Linked DNA regions of Homo sapiens: all the other regions are reported to be linked to region 4. Evidence: microRNA targets listed by miRTarBase, many of them from high-throughput screens and not tested one by one. Region 4 holds a microRNA gene; each other region holds the end of a gene's coding sequence.

Region 1 (4,000 bases), not on the chromosome of region 4:
TCCAAGTGAGTTATCTAGAAGTGGGCCGAATTCAGACTGAAGAAGGTACTGAAGTACATGTAGAGGAGCTGCATGTTGAACGGGTCAATCAAATGCCAGTGGAAGTACAAACTGAACTTCTAGAAGCAGATTTGGACCACGTGACCCCAGAAATCATGAACCAAGAGGAGAGAGAGTCTAGCCAAGCAGATGCTGCTGAGGCTGCCAGGGAAGATCACGAAGATGCTGAGGATTTAGAGACCAAGCCAACAGTGGATTCTGAAGCAGAAAAGGCAGAGAATGAGGACAGAACAGCTCTGCCAGTTTTAGAATGAAATTACACATGAATATATTTTTAAATTTACTTGTTGGGTTTTTGAACTGATTATGGGCAGTTTGACTGTCCTTAATTAAGCCTAACAGACAAGTGGACCAAAGTTAAGCTGTTTCCTGTTGTGCTGAACTGTTGTCCGTTGAAACACATTGATTCCCCTCCCCCTACTTATTGCCACAGAGGAGGGATCTTTTCCATAACTGAAGGGGAGTTTTGAGAAGTATATTTCTGGAAACTTAAATGGATTATATTCTTATTATATAGTTGGGTACGAATGTATCTATTTTCATTGTGGTAAAAGTTCTTCCTTTTCTCTTTCCCAGGTCATGTTCTTCCTCAAATTTTTTCCATATTGTAAAATCAAACTTAAATCATTAGAATACAAGTTTATGTATTCTAATGCATGTTAGAAAATTGAATAATATAGGAAACACAAGGCTGCATGATGAAAAGTGCATTGTTACTGTGCAGTTAAATTTTGGCTTCTGGCTTTCTTTAGTTTGAACAAACGTTCTTGTCTACCCCAGTAGTCACAGATGCCATCTTTGCAACAGAAAGAGTGGTGGTGGCAAAATTTCTAGAATGTTAAAAAAAAAAAAAAATCCACACCCATGTGCCTTCTCAAAACCAACTGAACTTCTATAAAGCATCTCTGGTTCTTTCAAAGTTTGTGTTGTAAGGAGCAATGTAGATGATGCTATAATACTTTATATTTTTGGTTATAATGACAACCACCAGTTCTTTTTCACTTAAGTTAGGTTGAGAAATTTTATTTAATGGCCACTGAAGGGCCATTTTCAATTGGGAAAATTTATTTACATCTGTGGTAAACTTTATTTTGATGAAAAGTTGCACTAGTATTTTACCACCAGATGAGAAAAAGATGAGCAGCATTTAAAAATTAATGTATTTAAAATAAAGTACAGAGAAAGACATGTATATAATTATCAGGCTTTGTTTTGAATGGAATCTTTTCCCCCAATTCTTAATGTAAAGATCTTGTGCTATAACTTTTAAAGCCATACAAATAAGAGTGCTAAACTGTGGACTTAAAAGTAGGTGTGTAAATATTTTTAATCAGTATTACTTGGAAAATAAAATATAACAAACCCATAGACCAATATGCTATTTTTTTTACCTGTTAAATATTGGGAGTTCTTTACATTTTTTAAGTAAACTTTAAAATTATGTGTTCATGACTCTTTTTTAAAAAATTACCAGCGTGAAAGTTTATATCTGGGCAGAGATAGTTCCTCATGTGTCTTTACCCGTGTTAACATGACTGATGCATGAATTGTGATAAATTTTCCATCACACCTCCAACCCCCCAAAATCAGCTCAAAAGCATGGAAGTAGTTCATATTCTTTATGCTAATAGTTCTTACATGGTAGGCACAATAGCAGGAATTCTCCACTTAACTGTGTCAAATGTAAAAGACCAATGCGATTAGCCCCCTTTGGTAATCGTGACGTTAAATGGTATCACATTTACAAAAATACGCTGAAGAGAGTGGCTTCCCAGCATTGGAGAAGTCAGATTTAGATATAAATCTGGAGATAGAGCCAACCATTGTATTAAGGGGGCCACGTTTTTAAGATCAAAATAAGGGTATGAACACTTCCAAGTGTGTACTGTTTGGTAGTTGGGTATCTACTGCAAAGCTTATTTAACAGTATAGTTTTTATTTGAAATTGGAAAATACCAATAATATAATTAAATTATATCCCAGTGAATTTTCAGTTTGCCTTAGGATGCCAATGTTCCTGAGTTGTTTAAGAAAAAAAACCCTAACAGATAGTGGTCTCAAATATGTAAATTACTAGTTAGTATCTGGTGAATTTTGAATGCTGAAAATAGCGCATACTATGCCCTTAAGCTAAGGTATGAAACAAGGATTTTAAAACAAGAGTTCTGACCACAAGGTAAAGATCAAGGGCAAAGGTACATCAAAGTGTTAAAATTATTTGAGTTTTCACATTTGTCAAGACCTTTCGAGGTAGATTTGAGATGCAGATATAGTTCATTTTTCTTTTCCCAAAAGGTATAGAAGCTATCAGTGTACCCAGAATGCCAGTAAATTTGATTGCAAAAGTAGAGGAAAACTATCTACTGGTGATAAACTGTATGTTGAATAACATTTTGTAGTTGGAAAGCACTTTATGTAGAACATAAAACAGCTGTTAACAACTGATGTATATTTGCTTCAAGTACTGAAGCAAACTGGATATTTAGTCCTCCAGTGTTCTACTGTATTTGTACTGGAGTTTTAAGATAAGTCTACAGTATGAGGTACCAAGTTGGACAGTAGAGTGTGCAATGATGATCACATAGAAATAAGTCCCAAGTGCACTGAGAACGATGAGAGGCTTTTCTATCTCTACTCCGTTTCAACAGCAATTCTCAGACATCAATTGGGTGTCCAACAATTGAATCTGACACCACCCAGATTTAGAGCAAGTTAAGTGCTCAGTACCACAAAATTGCCCCCACTTCAGACACCAGCCACAAATGCGATCAACAGGCTACCCGCGCTTCTGCCCAGCCAACCGTAAATTTAGGGTTCTTATGGCCTTCCCATCCCCCCAAGTTCAATAATGCATTGAAACAACTCAGGAAAGCACTATACTTAACGACTACAGTAAGTATACAATTCAGGAACAGCCAAATGGAAGAGATGCATAGAGTAAGGTGGATGGAGGGGGTTGTGGAGGAGAATAGTAGAGGTTTCTCTGCCCTCACTTGGCATGCCACTTTCCCAGCATGTTGATGTGTTCAACTCAGAAGCTCCCTTACTGACATTTTATAACCTAGACTCATTAAATTATTGGCCTCCGGGCTCAATCTCCAGCCCCTCTTCTCCCTGGAGGTCTCGGGTGGGGGTAATAGTTGTAGCCCTTTAATACAACTGGTTCCTCTAGTGACCCGTGCCCATCTTGAAGCTATCTAGGGGCCCTCTGCCAGTAGTCATCTCATTAGCATAAACTGGTAAGATCAAAAGGGGCTTGTAATGAATAACAAAAGACATTCTGGAAATTACAAGGATTTTTGGAGCTGTGTGCAAGGAACCAGGGAGAAAAACCCAAATCCATTTTATTTGTTTTGTTTTTAGACAGTTTCACTCTTGTTGCCCAGGCTGGAGTGCAATGGCACGATCTCTGCTCACTGCAACCTCCACCTCCCAGGTTAAGGCGATTCTCATACCTCAGCCTCTCGAGTAGCTGGGATTACAGGCATGCGCCACCATGCCCGGCTAATTTTTTTTTTTTCAGTAGAGACGGGTTTTCACCATGTTGGTCAGGCTGGTCTCGATCTCTCGACTTCAGGTGATCCACCCACCTCAGCCTCCCAAAGTGCTGGGATTACAGGTATGAGCCACCGTGCTTGGCCTATTTTTTTTTTTTTTTTAATTACACCACACCTATCATTTGAGATTGAAAGAAAAACTAAACTGAATACATTAGCAATACATTTAAAAGCTAGACATCTTTTGGATATGTACAAAATCAGAAGGCTCTTGTAGTCTTACCAGTTTAAAAAGGCTACCTGGCTGGACACGGTGGCTCACGCCTGTAATCCCAACACTTTGGGAGGCCAAGGTGGACAGATCACCAGTTCAGGAGTTCGAGACCAGCCTGGGCCAACATGGTGAAACCCCCATCTCTACTAAAAATACAAGATGAACCAGG
Region 2 (5,212 bases), not on the chromosome of region 4:
ATCTCATGTCCTTACATTTCAAAATACAATCATGCCTTTCCAACAGTCCCCCAAAGTCTTAACTCATTCCAGCATTAACCCAAAAGTCCCAAGTCCAAAGTCTCATCTGAGACAAGGCAAGCACCTTCCGCCTATGAGCCTGTAAAATCAAAAGAAAGTTAGTAACTTCCTAGATACAATGGGGGTACAGGCATTGGGTAAATATACCCATTCCAAATGGGAGAAATTTGCCAAAACAAAGGGGCTACAGGCCCCATGCAAGTCCAAAATCCAGTGGGGCAGTGAAATCTTAAAGCTCCAAAATGATCTCTCTTTTGTCTCCATCTCTCACATCCAGGTCATGCTGATGCAAGAGGTGGGCTCCCATGGCCTTGGGCAGCTTGGCCTCTTTGGCTTTGCAGGGTACAGCCCCCTCCTGACTTCCTTCATGGGTTGGCATTGAGTGTCGGTGACTTTTCCAGGCGCATGGTTGGTGGACCTACAATTCTGGGGTCTGGATGATGGTGGCCCTCTTCTCATAGCTCCACTAGGCAGTGCCCCAGTGGGGACTCTGTGTGGGGGCTCCAACCCCACATTTCCCTGCTGCACTGCCCTTGCAGAGGTTCTCCATGAGAGCTCTACCCCTGCAGCAAACTTCTGCCTGGACATCCAGGTGTTCCCATACATCCTCTGAAATCTACGGGGATGTTCCCAAACCTCAATTCTTGACTTGTGTGCACCTGCAGGTTCACTGTGCTGAAGCTGCCAAGCCTTGGGGCTTGCACCCTCTGAAGCCATGACCTGAACTGTATCTTGGCCTCTTTTAGCCATGGCTGGGATGCAGGGCACCAAGTCCCAAAACTGCACAAAGCAGCAAGGCCTCGGGCCTGGCCAGGAAACCGTTTTTCCCTCCTAGGCCTCTTGGCCTGTGATGAGAAGGGCTGCTGTAAAGAGTTCTGACATGGCCTGGAGACATTTTCCCATTATCTTGGCAATTAACATTTGGCTCCTTGTTACTTATGCAAATTTCTGCAGCTGGCTTGAATTTCTCCTCAGAAAATGGGTTTTCTTTTCTATCACATTGTCAGGCTGCAAATTTTCCAAACTTTTAAACATAAGTTCCAATTCCAAACCATATTTTTGGGAATACATAAAACTGAATGCTTTTAACAGCACGAAAGTTACATCTTGAATGCTTTGCTGCTTAGAAATTTCTTCCACCAGATACCCTAAATCATCTCTCTCAAGTTCAAAGTCCCACAAATCTCTAGGGCAGGGGCAAAATGCCACCAGTGTCTTTGCTAAAACATAGCAAGAGTCACCTTTATTCCAGTTCCCAACAAGTTCCTCTTCTCTATCTGAGACCACCTCAGCCTGTATTTCATTGTCCATATTACTATCAGCATTTTGGTCAAAGCCATTCAACAAGGCTCTGGGAAGTTCCAAACTTTCCTACATCTTCCTGTCTTCTTCTGAGCCCTCCAAACTGTTCCAACCTCTGCCTGTTACAAAGCTCTGCCACTTACAAAGTTAACAATGTTGGGTAAATTACTCTGACTTATCTCTGTGTTTATATTTTCTCATCAGCATAATGGGCATAATATTCCATTACCTACGTCACAGGGTCATTGTGAGGATTAAATAGGATAATGAGTTTAAAGGTTTAGATGAGTGACGGGTATATGGTAAATGTGAAATAATGTTAGCTAGTACTATTCTGCCTAATGACCTCTTTCAACCTTCTTTTTCTTTCCCCTAGTCTTAGAATACAGCAGTTCAGAGAATTTAATATACAAAGGAGGGATGTTCTCACCAAAGGGCATGTTAATATTTCATTCAATCTTTAAACAGATATGTTTTGAGAGAACAAAAAAGAATTCTGAAAAGAATACATGATAGCAGAAATAAAAATACAACAGAAGTTAGAAGATAAAGTTGAGGGAATCTTTAAGAAATACAACAAAAGACAAAAAGATGGACAATAGAATAGACAACTATCTTAGTTGTCTGAGGATCCATTGGAGAGAAATTAAACACATTCCTGCCCTCACAGAGTCTAGGTAATTTTCTTTTTTCCAGAGTTTTCCTGGCTCCTCTCACATGCTGTATGTGTATATATGCATTTATTTTATAATCATGGTGTTTTCAAGGAATATTTTTACATTAAGCTTTTGTTTAATGTACATGTAAGTACATAATTAAAAAATTACACACTACAGGTTACAAACTCAAAAGTAAGCTTCCCTTCCTTATTCCAGATTTCTTAGTTGTCCTCAAAAACAACCATTCTTACTTGATTTTTTATGACTTATTACTGAGATAAACATATAGAAGTATACAAGCCTCCTTTCTCAAATAATGGTAGGGAAAAGGGAGGAGGAGAAGATACAGGATGCGTGAGAGGCTTCTAGCCATAGAGATGTAAAGAGAAAGGAAGTACATTCAGAGGACAGAGCAGGGAACATCAGACCACAAGGGTTGAGTAGTACTCTTGAAGCCAAAGCAGAAAATGTAGACTTTTAAATGAATGTAACAAGCATTTATTAAAAACTGTGCTGCACAAAACATGTTAGAAACTAGCCAGGTGCTAGGAGTCTAATCAAGGCAGGGGCAGGGTAAAAACATGGGAATATTACATGGACAAGCTTGTCTAGCATGGCAGTCTATAACCCTTGAGGGTTTACATAAAATAAAGGAACATTTTTGTGGCTCAGGCTCCCCAGAGTTCTCTTTATGTTTGGGCAGAGACTGCCCCATCCCTTAGTGATCCCACCTTAGAGCCAGGTTTTCAAAGTCATTTCTCCCAGTATATCTGTCTCTGTATGCAAGTTTCCTCTGGTTGCCTTGAGCAAAAACAATCATCCAACTCAAATTTGCTAGCCCTATGCTGGGCCAGCCCACGTTCCCGTAGGACATCTGTAGGCTAAGTAAGCCCCGGGTGATCTGTGTCTTGGTCTTCCTAATTCCGTTGCAGCTCTTCCTCTCTCAGCCAGGAGTGGAAAGTCCTAAGCCTCCTTCCATTCATCCCATTATCAAGGTGATGGCTCTCCCTCCCCAGCTCTGCTTCCAGGAAGATGACATCCCAATAACTTGGGTATCACCAAAACCCCTCCCTGACCACCAGGGAAACTGCTGTCTGTCTTATGTCCATTTGGACAGACTATCCATCTGTTGCTTGTTTCAAGACTTGTTGATGGGGTGGACAGACCAGACATTTCATGTATTTCTGTGGATCAAGATCTCTCTTTTTTCTCTCTCTCTCTCTTTTGAGTATTGTGATCTCTTTTGGTTCTTTCACAGCTTCCCCAGGCCATCTCACTAGTCAGTTCTTCAAGAGAAACAGGGTTCACAAGCTCTGGCATTTTCCTGTTTATTCAGTTCTCTCCACTATGGCTTGTTGGGTGGGGCAAGCCTCCTCAATATTAGCAACAGCCCAGATAGAAGTGGCTCCAGGTTCTATCTCTGCCTCTCCTAATTTCCCCAAATTTAGGTTGGTCTGCTCATTGTTGCCTGTACCCTAGGCCACCGTTTTCCTTACTGACCCTGACAGAGGGATGAGAACTCCTTAGCAGGGGTAGACTTTTCTCTAGAGCATAGTAATCACACTATTACAGTACATAGATCTCTATGTTTCAAGATATTAACACTATAAGGTCATAAATACATAAGTCCCACCCAGACTGAGGAGGTAGTTGTTTAGTCACAGGTACACACAAAATTCAGTGGGGCACCAGCTTAGAATTCTGGGCAGATAAAAGGCAGTTTTCCAGAAATTGAGAGGTCTATTTAAAAAAAAAACACAATCTATGAAATTAAGAGAAGAATCTGATCTGGAGGAGGTATTGGTCCTAAATTTTATTTCCAGGTCATGAGCCATTAAGCTGGGCTTGGCCCATAAGTGTGCTCTGAAGTGAAAAGAAGCAGTAAGAGAATTAAAGTCTCCTCTTGGCATACGGAGCAGAGCTGGAGTTACAGGGAGGCTATTCCACTTAGAGGGAGTCCTGGAGCCCCCTTATTACTCATGGTAATGTCTTTTTGCCTTCTGGAAGAAATCAAAAAGGTTGCCCAGGAACTTACAAAGGAAAGGGTAGAAAAAATGAATACTTGTATGGGCTTTACTCTTTAATTAAAAACATGTATCACTTTTGTCGCATGAAGATGTCTTCGAACTTTTAAAAACACGCTGGGCTTCATCAGATCTTTCAGGTATATGGATTTTTTCTCTGGAGAAATAGAAGAAAAGATTAGGTGATATTTCACATTTGAGCTACTTTCTTTTTCTAGATTTCAATGATAGGGCAGAATAGAGGTTGCCATTGGAACAGCAATGAGGAGAAACAAACTATTGAAGAGAAAGGTGGAGAAAGCAAGAGAAAAGAACCACGGTCTACACTGTCATCTATGCTTCAAGAGCTACCCTTTATTTCTGCCTGGCCCTTCCCATGCCCTCTGCCGGTTCTCTGCTGCCTGCCCTCTGCAGGCTCTTCCAGACCATTTCTGAAACTGAGTGTGACAGGGTAGGCAGGATTTCAGCACCCTTTCTCATTGTCCAAGGGTGCCCGGAATTATTAGTTTTGTTGCTAGAATCACAGTGGCTGGTATATCTGGATTAGTGCTGGGTACTCTCGGTTGTCTCTGCACCCTGGGGGTTATGACCCTATCTCTGAAACCAGGCTTGTGACTGAGGGTTGCTTTGATCCTATGGGTATGCAGTCAGAGCCTTGATATTCCTGAGAGCTTAATTTCTCAGGAGGGATAGAGGTACAGACTATCTGATAGCTTCACGTTGTGAAAGGACTGATCACCACGAACTTTTATGTATTCATCATGCATCAATCATTCTTTCAACATTTATTGAGAACCTGCTATATGCCAGGCACCATGCTAAGTGCTAGCAGCACAATGATGAGCTTAACTGGTATGGTCTCTGCTCTTCATAGGATTTAGTTAAGTCTAGTTTATAGAGTTTAATAAGATAATTACACAAATATGTAAGCATAATCTGGTGTTATTAAGAAAAAGCCAAGGGATCCACATGACACTGTAACAAGTTGACATTTTCTAGTTTGGGAAAGGGTTTTTAAGAAAGTGCTGCTTGAGGCAAGATCTGAAGAATGAGGTAAAGAAGTGGCAGAAGAACATCTAAACAGGGCCATAGCAAATACTAAGATGCTCAGGCTGAAGCAAACATGTTATCATTCCCCACTTCTTCATTTATTCATTCCACACATGT
Region 3 (4,000 bases), not on the chromosome of region 4:
ACACGTTAACAAGCAGTAGCAGCGTTAGTAAGTAACAGTGTAAAGTGAACTGCAGAAATGCACCCGAACCTGAGAATCTGCTTGATCTTGTGAAAATCAATGGTCTCCCTGCATCCTCGATTAGATTCTAATCCTAAGTTAGAAATCCCCAGGGAGGCTTCCCTGATTCTGGCCTAGGGATAGATGTTTGCCTGCCCCTCATCTCAGTGGTATAGGCATCATGCTAGCCGGAGGTATAAGATGAAAAACAACAGCACTGACAATACCAAGTGGTGGAGGTGGCCTCCTCTGCCAGTTTGGCCTCTGGCCCTTTAAATCAACCCTCCTGACTACTCCATGGATCAGTTAGCCCATAAAGGAGAGCTGTGAACACTTGGGGCTTCCCCGCTTCTCTCCCTGAAAGTTCTTACTCAGATCTTATCTCTGCCCCCTCCAAACTCTTGGCCCTGGGACTCTAATCTGGCCCTGCCCTGGCCTTTTGAACTCTTACCAGCTCCACCTCTGGTGGAGCTTAACTTTCCCTATAACGGCCTCCCTGCTAGAAACGCTCCTGGCTCTAGCCACGTGGCCAACACTCTTGCTGGGCTGGTTGTCTCCTCCCTCCCCTTCTTCCCCCAAGATGGGGTAGTCAGACAGAACATTCTAGCTGCTGAATTCCACAATGAAAGTATTAGAGCCGTTTGGAGGAAGGAGAGGTCCTGGAGAAAGGTGGTCAGGGAAGCCCTTGAGGAAGAATAGGATCTGATCTCCAGATCCGAGTGGGAACAAAAGAGTCCTGTACAATTTCATGGCTTAGTCCAGGGACTGGCAGATTCTGGCTCAAGGGCCAAATCCAGCCTCCCTCCTGTTTTGGGAAATAAAGTTTTGTTGGAACACAGCTGCGGTCATTTGTTTCTCGATTGCCTGGCTGCTTTTGTGCTGCAACGGCAGAACTGAGTAGTTGCCATAGAGACTGTATGGCCTGCAAAGCCTAAAATGTTTACCATGTGGCCCTTTACTGAAGAGTTGGCCAACCCCGGGTTTAGTGCATCAGGCTTCCCCAAACAGTGATGTGAGGAACTCCAGCCCCTTGGGACTGCTTCAATCAAACACAATAATCCAACACATCTGGGAAACACACATTATGTCCCCATCCCGAGGTGTGAAAACCCAGGGTGTTTCACAATACACCTCCATATAGCAAAGGCTCCAAAAGATCCTGCATAGAAGAATGTTTGTGGTTTCCCAGCATTTCCAAAACTTCATTAATCTACCAAACCTCCTTTTCCTCAGAACACCTTTTCACATCCTGAGAATCTAGCATTAGAAACAGTCTGGGTGCTGGGCCCATCCCTGCCACAAATGAGAACCAATTCCTGGGAATGATCATGAAACCTTCCATGCACAAGCCTAAGAGAGAGAGAGAGAAAGAAGTGAGCCTTTAGAGCTTTACACAGGAAAGGACCTGACCAGATACCTAGATCATAAATCCAAGCAAGGGGCACGGCGATCCAGAACATAGCTGTGGAGGTGGGCTGCTCCGAGTGGCCTTTGCTGAAGTACACACCTTGCAGAGCCTGCTCCCTCATTGGTTGAATAGGATCCATGATGTCTGTCCTATCTCCGTTACAGGATTATTTGGGGCAGGTCATTGAGAAAGCGAACAGGAAAATAGTCTCGAGGGACGACTGTGGTATCCTTGATTTTTGACAGTGAGTTTTGCTTTGGTACAATGCTCAGCAATGGTGAAGTGAAAAAGGCCCTGAACCAAGGTCACGAGTTCTCTTTGCTAGTCCTCACAGTGCTATAACTAACTGGGTTAACTGGGTGACTTTAAACAAGCGCCCCCCACCTGTACCCTTAACCCTGTTGGGCCTCAAGTCCCTCTCTTCTAGAATGAGGATATTAGACTAATCTCTAAAGATCTGTTAGCTCTGAAATTCTGCGATTCCATGTGGTTAGATGTGTGCAATTTTCCTACTTATCCAAAACAACAGGTTTCTCTTATAAGCCATAAAACCGGCATCTCCTTGATTTTCTTTGTACAGTGTCTGTGTTCAGAACCAGATATAAGGGGGTATTACTGAAGGATTTCTGTGCTGCTGACAGCTTAGAAGGCAGGACTAAGCCTTCTGGAAATGTCTACCTGGCAATTCTCAACTCGATATTGGTGCCTATTTTTCCTTTCTGCCTCCACCGCTCAGGCTGTTCCATCCAACAATGGAGCCCAGACAGTTTGCCAGCGGATCTGGCAAAAGAAAATAGTGGATGTGATTCCTGGAAAGGCAGTGGGGCCTAGGGTGGAGCGAAAGTTCCCTGACAAGCATGAGGTGATGTAGTTACAGGGCAGAATCCACATAAAATTCCTCTCTTTTGTCTCCCACCTCACCCCCAAAAACCATTTTCCAGCTTCACCAACAGTCCTCCATATCGAGGATTTATAAGCAGCTGAACAAGAGGGCCTTTATGAAGAAAGCAAGAATCTACTGAAAATACCCTGCTCCTCCATGAATGTAGGAAAATCCCAGAAAATCTTGGCCGGGTCAAAAGGTCTACGGCACAATAAGCCTGGGTCCAAATGGGGCGGGATGATGTGAGGAATGGGTGTTTGCCCTTTTGATCTCAGCGGAGAAACCAGCTGCCTGTGGGGTCATCTAGGGGACTCCCAAAAGGAGGGGCAGAAGCCCAGGGGGACCCAGAGTTCTTGCAGAGGAAGGGTGCCTAGAGGCCACTGAGCCCCCAAGTCAATCAGACACAGGTATTTATTGGGGTCCTACTGAGTTGGAAGTTCTCTGGGGGCATCATGAGACAGATAAAATGCAATTACTGCCTTAAAGGAGCTTAGAATCTACTTGAGAAGGCAAGGCTGGTACACTTAAATATAATACATGTGAATGGGAGGCTGAGTGCTAACAGTAGTCAGAAAAGGAGCCCCCAGCAAGGGCTGGGAGTGTTGATAGGGGATTTGTCACTTTCCACACTGATTGGAAGCCTCTTCTATTTTCAAACATTCAGGAATGGAAATTTCATGCTTTTCCTAGGTGACCTCTTCCAGTGTTTCATACACTGTTCTTGAAGTCTCCTTTGAGTCATCTTGTCACCTTTGGACGTGGATAATGCTTGACTTTCTTGGGCCCAAGGACAGCCAGCCTTTCTTCCATGGGTGGAGCACCGGCTGCATCAGCTTCTCTTCCCACAGGTGGAGGAAGGATGATGGAAAGAGGCTGGGGTCCTGAAGGCCTTTGATCTTGGTCCTTCTCCCATGGTAACTGAGCAGTTCATCTCTCTGTCCCTCAGGGTCCTGGATTTCTCTCTGGGGCAGTCAGGCTGGCCCCAGCAGGAAGAGAGTCATCCTGGAGCATCTTTCTTTCCACATGGGGCAGCTGGTCTGCTTGGGGGTTCACTTCCAGAAAATGTGTCATCTGAATTAAGGTGACCCTTTCTGCCTCCTGAGCTGCAGAGACACAGAGCAGACTGTGAGGGTTCTGGGTAAGGACAGCACTGACTTTGATTTCCTAAGAACCACTCCCAACCACTGCAAGTTTTCAAGAACTTTCTGACACAGAAGCAATGGAGCCCTAGTTGGCTAGGCTAAGCCAGCCTAGCCCATGATAGGGCTTGGACTTCGGGGCCTGGGTCTGAGAACCTTAGCCTCCTCCACTTGCTGCCAGAAAATCTCACCCTTTCTTCACTAGGTGTACATATCACAGAGCCCTCACTTTAAGAGTACTTAAACCTGGGCATGTTGCTCTCAGAGAATTTTAGCTGGGCTTTGCCAAAGGGGGAAAATGCGAGGTTTGATCCCAGGTCTGGGCCCTGCACTCCTGCTCTCTGCTGTGAGGGTTGCTTATGAGGCTTATGGTTAACATAGGCATCACAGCCTTTGTAATCTTCCAGGAGCTTCTCCTTGTGCTCTGGGATGCCATTGACACGTAAGTACAGAGATAATTTCTAATTTTATTGATTAAAAACCAAGGCAGTTTGGGCAGAGTGGCTCACGCCTATAATCCCAGCAATTTGG
Region 4 (5,212 bases):
TGGTGGTGGTACTGGTGGTGGTGGTGGTGGTGGTGTTGGTGGTGGTGGTGTTGGTGGTGTTGGTGGTGGTGGTGGTGGTGGTGGTGGAGGGTGGTGGTGGTAGGGGCTGGTGAGCATCATGTTTTGCTACCTCTCTCAGTTGTATTTAAAGAGACATTGTTTTTGACCTGTTTGCCTATTCCTCAGTCTGTCACACCAACATGACCAGTCCTGCCGATTGAAACTTTCTGGACACAAGCTTCAGTCTCTGGAAGATTCTTGGGTGTCCTTCTCCCTCCAAGGTATGTGAAGGATGCTCCAGCCCACAGTTACATGACATTGGTCATTAGGTGCCTTGGGAGGGCTTCATGGAGGCGATGTGACTTTAGGAACCTGACAGGCTTATTTTCTTTTTGTTTTTGATATTTTTCGAATTCAAAGCATAGAATCCCTACTTTGCCTGCTTTACTTGTGGCAAATTTTTGATGTACATTCACTTTTTTTTTTTTTTTTTTTCAGAATTAAATGCTACTTTGGAAACGCTCTTGACCATGAAGCCTCCATTAGGGAAGAGACATTAGGGTTACCCCCACCCAGACGAGTGACAGCAGGGCAGACCCCAAACTTACGTTTGCCTGCATAGGAGTTCCATCTCTGGATGTGAAGAGGCCAGGGGTGGGCCCTGCGCTTCCCACGTGGGACTCGCAAAGTGCTCACCTGCTTCTGTTACCTTCTGTCTTTCATGAATCATGTTTGCGTTTGTGCTCTCCAGGGCTGTTCCCACTTTTCCCATCTAAAAGGTGGATGTTCCTTCTATGCTTACAGGATTTATGGTGAATCATAGAGGAAAATCCGCATTTTCAGTATCTAAGGCTGCTTTTAAAACATTTCTGAACATTTCTGAGAGGAAGGTTAGCTCCCTCCCCCATGCGGAGAGTGATGGAAGGTGAATCCCAGAACCTAAGCTCTTGTTAGCAAGGTCTGTCCTGGGACATGCGTCCTCCGCAGGGCCCATGTCACTGCCGCTAGCCCGGGAGGCCCCTGCCGACTGCACCTATCCTGTGCTGTCTTTAATTTTGATAGATTGTGCTTAGGTTCATGCTTTCCAGGACTCAATCCTTCTTTGGTATTTAAAAGGTGGATATTCCTTCTATGTTTATGTTATTTATGGTTAAACATAGAGGAAATTCCACGTTTTCAGTATCAAATGCTGCTTGGAAACATTCCTGGACTGAAACCACCATCAGGGAAGAGACAATAAAGTCCCCCCCCCCACTCCAGGGTAAGTGGAAAGTCGGTGGACCTCAGAACATGTGCTGAATTCGTGCCATATGTCTGCGGACCACCCACCCGCCTTGAGGAGACCCCTCTCGCAAGCTGCCCGCTCGGCCAAGCGGCTGGGCTCCGTCGTCATTTTCTCCATGAGGCCGAATGCTCTCCTCTGTGCTATGTTACTTTTGTGTTTGATGGATTGTACTTAGGTTCGTGCTTTCCGGGATGAAACCTTCTTTGGTATTTAAAAGGTAGATTTTCCTTCTATGGTTACGTGTTTGATGGTTAATCATAGAGGAAAATCCACGTTTTCAGTATCAAATGCTGCCTTGGGATCATGGCTGGACTGAAGCCACCATCAGGGACGTGAGGTGGGGCTGAGCCCTCCAGGGTAAGTGGAAAGATGGTGGGCCGCAGAACATGTGCTGAGTTCGTGCCATATGTCTGCTGACCATCACCTTTAGAAGCCCCCTTTCGCTGAGGAGCCAGCTTGGTGCACAGGCTGTGGTGTGTTGTCACAGCTATGCTACGGGACTGAAAACGGTTGCTTTACTGTCTTGCTTCCATTTTCCATGAACTGTGTTCAGATTTGTCCTTTCCAGAGCCCAGTCCTTCTTTGGTATTTAAAACGTGGATATTCCTTCTATGTTTACGTGATTCCTGGTTAATCATAGAGGAAAATCCATGTTTTCAGTATCAAATGCTGCTTTGGAAATGTTTCTGGAAGAGACCGTAGGGCCTGAGTAGGTGCAAAGATGGTAGGCCGCACGTCGTATCTGAATGAACGGGGTATGCCCGAGAACCATCTCGAGACGCCAACTTGGTGAAGATTAAATTGTGGGTCTCGTGGTGCCAGTTCTTCCCTGGAAGCTCGTCTGCCTCATGTGACTTTCTTTTCTGATGACTCAAGCACAGGTGCACGCTTTCCTGGATGGAATCCTTCTTTGGTATTTAAAAGGTAGATTCTCCTTCTATGAGTACATTATTTATGATTAATCATAGAGGAAAATCCACGTTTTCAGTATCAAATGCTGCTTTGAAAACCTCGGAGGACGTGAAGTCGCCATGGAAGAGGAGATGTTATCTGTACCCCTCCTGGGTACAGGACGGACAGACACAGAATTGTACTTTGTATGAAATACGCCGTCAGCTTCTCTGCTGTTTGCTCACTGCCCTTGGTGCACACATAATGTGTTGTTACAAGGCTGTGTTCTCAGTATTGCCTCATTGACCTTGAATGAAGTTTGTTCTCTGTATGTTTACCATGATTGCAATGCATTTTCTGGAATGAACCTCTTTTACTGTGACTAGTTGTACCTTAGAGAATACCTGAGTGGGCTGTCAATTTCAGGAAGGGGCACTGCTTCAGGGGCTATGGAAGGAATAGATGTGTGATTCACCCACGGGCCTGCACTTCACACCTCGGTGTGCTGCTCTCACCATGCAGATCCCATCTGTGTCTCTAAGGCTTGCTCCTGGAGCTGGTGGCAACTTAGTCACAGAGGAAATGGCCTTCCTGTCACTGCCATCATTTGCTACTTGAAGAGAGGTAATCCTTCACGCATTTGCTTTACTTGCAATGATTATACAAGGGCAGACTCTCTCTGGGGAGCAAATCCTGCCTGGGAAGCCTTCTTGGGAACAAGGCTGACTCCAGCAACCTGTTAGATGGCCAGGATAGCCCTGGGGTGTGGATGGTTGACCACAGGGCATGTGCCTCTGTCTTGCTGTTTGTGACCTGGTTCTCTGACCCTCCTCATCTCATGCTTCCTTCCAAGAACTTTCTGGAAGAGATGCTGGCTTTGGAGATGATATAGGGTTTTCTCTTCAGACCACCTGTTCTGCCTAGCAAAAAGGGCCTACCTTGGCCGGGCACGGTGGCTCACGCTTGTAACCCCAGCCCTTTGGGAGGCTGAGACGGTGGATGGCTTAAGCCCAGGAGTTCGAAACTAGCGTGGGCAACTTGGCGAAACCCCATCTCTGCAAAAAATACAAAAATTAGCTGGGTGTCATGGTGTGCGCCTGTGGTCCCAGTACTTAGGAGGTTGAGGCTGGAGGATCACTTGAGCCCGGGAGTTGGGAGGTTGTAGTGAGCCAAGATTGTGCCACTGCACTTCAGCCTGGCTGACAGAGACCCCTGTCTCAACACAATAGGTTAAAAAAAAAAGAAAAGAACAAAGGGCCTCCCTTGATGGGCCCTACTTATCACAAAGCATCCATGGGCTGCTACTCCGGCAGGTCTGCCCAGCATGATGCCAGCCTCTGAGAAGAGGTCTCGTGGTCAGTGCATCTCCCAGATACATGAAAGAATGACCGTCAGCAAAGTCAATGTCTAATGTAGATGTGGGTCATCTGGTCTACCCACTCTCCATACCTAGCCCATCCTTGGAGTGACTTTTGGACCTCACTGTCCACTTGAGGGAAGGCCAGTCCACAGGAAGGAGGCCCCAGAGCACCCAGTGTGGCTACAGGACTTGCTGCTGGGACCTCTAAGCCCCACTGCTCTCTTAGTCCATTGGTGTCCTTTAGGGATTCTTGCCAATGGAAAGACCCTTGGATTCCTGGTGTTAGCATGTGTTTATTCAGAGAGAGTTGGCCCATGAGAATCTCATTTTCCTTTGACGAATCTTGCCCTAGATGAATACTTCTGAGTAACAACTAACTGCTCAGATGGCTTTCTGAATACAATGCCAAATTCAGGAGAAGGGACACTTGTCATAGTGCTGCTTTGTGATTTGCAAACGGAGTGCGTTGGATTTCTGTTTCTCTTTTTTCTTTAATGATGCATGTGACTGCATCTTCTAACCTCCCTTAGCCAGTGTTCACCAGGAGGGCTTCCTGGAGGCAGTGGCTTTGGGCAGAGGCAGAGGTTCTTCTCCCAGGGTGTTTTTGCAGGCCCTAAAGGGATTTCAGCCATTTTACATTTACATTATTTCAAATGGTACAGGATTGCCTGTCTTTTGGTAACCAATCCTGTCGTGAAGAGATGCTGGGAAGTAAAGTCAACTGTATGGCAGGCCCCAGCTCCAGGGCCAGCCAGATGAGGCTTGTCACCTGGCCCCTCCCCCTTGGTCTCAGGCCTCGCAGGAGGAGATGTCCACTCCGGCGAAGACCCGGCATAGTCCTCACCTGCTCTTTGAGCCACTCTTTGGTACTTGAAGAGAGGATACCCTTTGTATGTTCACTTGATTAATGGCGAATATACAGGGGGAGACTCTTATTTGCGTATCAAACTCTGTCGAGGAAGACGCTCAGACCCTGCTGTCTCCAGGACAAAGCCTCGGATGTCAGCCCCTCTCAGGTACGGCTTGGCTTCCCTGTCTGGGAACGTGAGCTTGGCTGTGATCCTAGCCCTTGGGTTCTGCCTTCGCTCTCTGTGCTGGTTCTTCCTGTGGACTCCCTGGAGGCAGTGGGAGAGGAGGGTCCTTTTTGTGTGCACTGAGTTTAATGGTGGTTTGCTTTTTTTAAGGATAAATCACATGGATCTGCCTCTTCTCCATACCAAGTCATACCCAGAGGGCTTCCTGCGTCCAGCACTAACCTCGCACCTCTCCGGACACACGAATGGGTGGTGGATGGTGGAGCGCAGAGCTGATGCTGCTTCTCACCTGCTACTCCCCTGACCTGCCACTCCCTGGTGGTCTCCATCCTTGAGAGAGTGTCAGCCTTGAGGGAAGCACATGGATGTCAGGTTGTTCTAAGGCAAGTTACTGGTGGAGCTCCCTGAGCCTGCCTGTGCCCTCTGGGACTGTCGCTGGACTCCAATGGCCAGTCCTCGGAGCACATTGTCCAGTGATTGCACCTGAGTGTGCCTTGGGCAGGTGTGTCTGGTCTTCAGGACTCCTTTGTCGCTAGAGTCTGACGCTGGGGCCCTCTTTTTGTTTGTTTCGAGGTAGGTACAGGTGACACATTCTTGGATCTGGTCATCTCTAGGACAACCAGCCTCAGAGGAGAGACATTG

What was found. The annotated mature microRNA hsa-miR-376b-5p reads CGUGGAUAUUCCUUCUAUGUUU and lies in region 4 at 1,881-1,902, shown strand. An mRNA with a match to its seed (bases 2 to 7 or 8) in the 3' UTR can be bound and repressed. Matches are read on the target gene's strand: a 7mer-m8 pairs with bases 2 to 8, a 7mer-A1 pairs with bases 2 to 7 and ends in A, and an 8mer does both.
Region 1: miRTarBase lists ZNF131 as a target of hsa-miR-376b-5p. Seed matches in the 3' UTR shown: 7mer-A1 at 915-921.
Region 2: miRTarBase lists CD86 as a target of hsa-miR-376b-5p. Seed matches in the 3' UTR shown: 7mer-A1 at 3,207-3,213.
Region 3: the mRNA of FCAMR is a reported target of hsa-miR-376b-5p. Seed matches in the 3' UTR shown: 7mer-m8 at 3,089-3,095.

The regions. Positions count from the first base shown.
Region 1 is chr5:43,174,820-43,178,819 of GRCh38, forward strand. ZNF131 (zinc finger protein 131) reads left to right here. Exons shown (of 7, transcript NM_001330707.2): 7 at 1-1,503. The coding sequence ends at 314. Among named protein-coding and RNA genes, the nearest start is that of NIM1K, 15 kb to the right of the region's middle.
Region 2 is chr3:122,118,428-122,123,639 of GRCh38, reverse strand. CD86 (CD86 molecule) reads right to left here. Exons shown (of 7, transcript NM_175862.5): 7 at 2,504-4,202. The coding sequence ends at 4,106. Among named protein-coding and RNA genes, the nearest start is that of CASR, 63 kb to the left of the region's middle.
Region 3 is chr1:206,955,244-206,959,243 of GRCh38, forward strand. It overlaps FCAMR (Fc alpha and mu receptor), which reads right to left. Exons shown (of 8, transcript NM_001170631.2): 8 at 2,724-3,433. The coding sequence ends at 3,273. Among named protein-coding and RNA genes, the nearest start is that of PIGR, 11 kb to the left of the region's middle.
Region 4 is chr14:101,038,579-101,043,790 of GRCh38, forward strand. It overlaps MIR376B (microRNA 376b), which reads left to right and starts at 1,858; the gene lies at 1,858-1,957. It overlaps MIR376C (microRNA 376c), which reads left to right and starts at 1,112; the gene lies at 1,112-1,177. It overlaps MIR376A2 (microRNA 376a-2), which reads left to right and starts at 1,491; the gene lies at 1,491-1,570. MIR654 (microRNA 654) reads left to right here and starts at 1,641; the gene lies at 1,641-1,721. It also overlaps MIR376A1, MIR300 and MIR1185-1.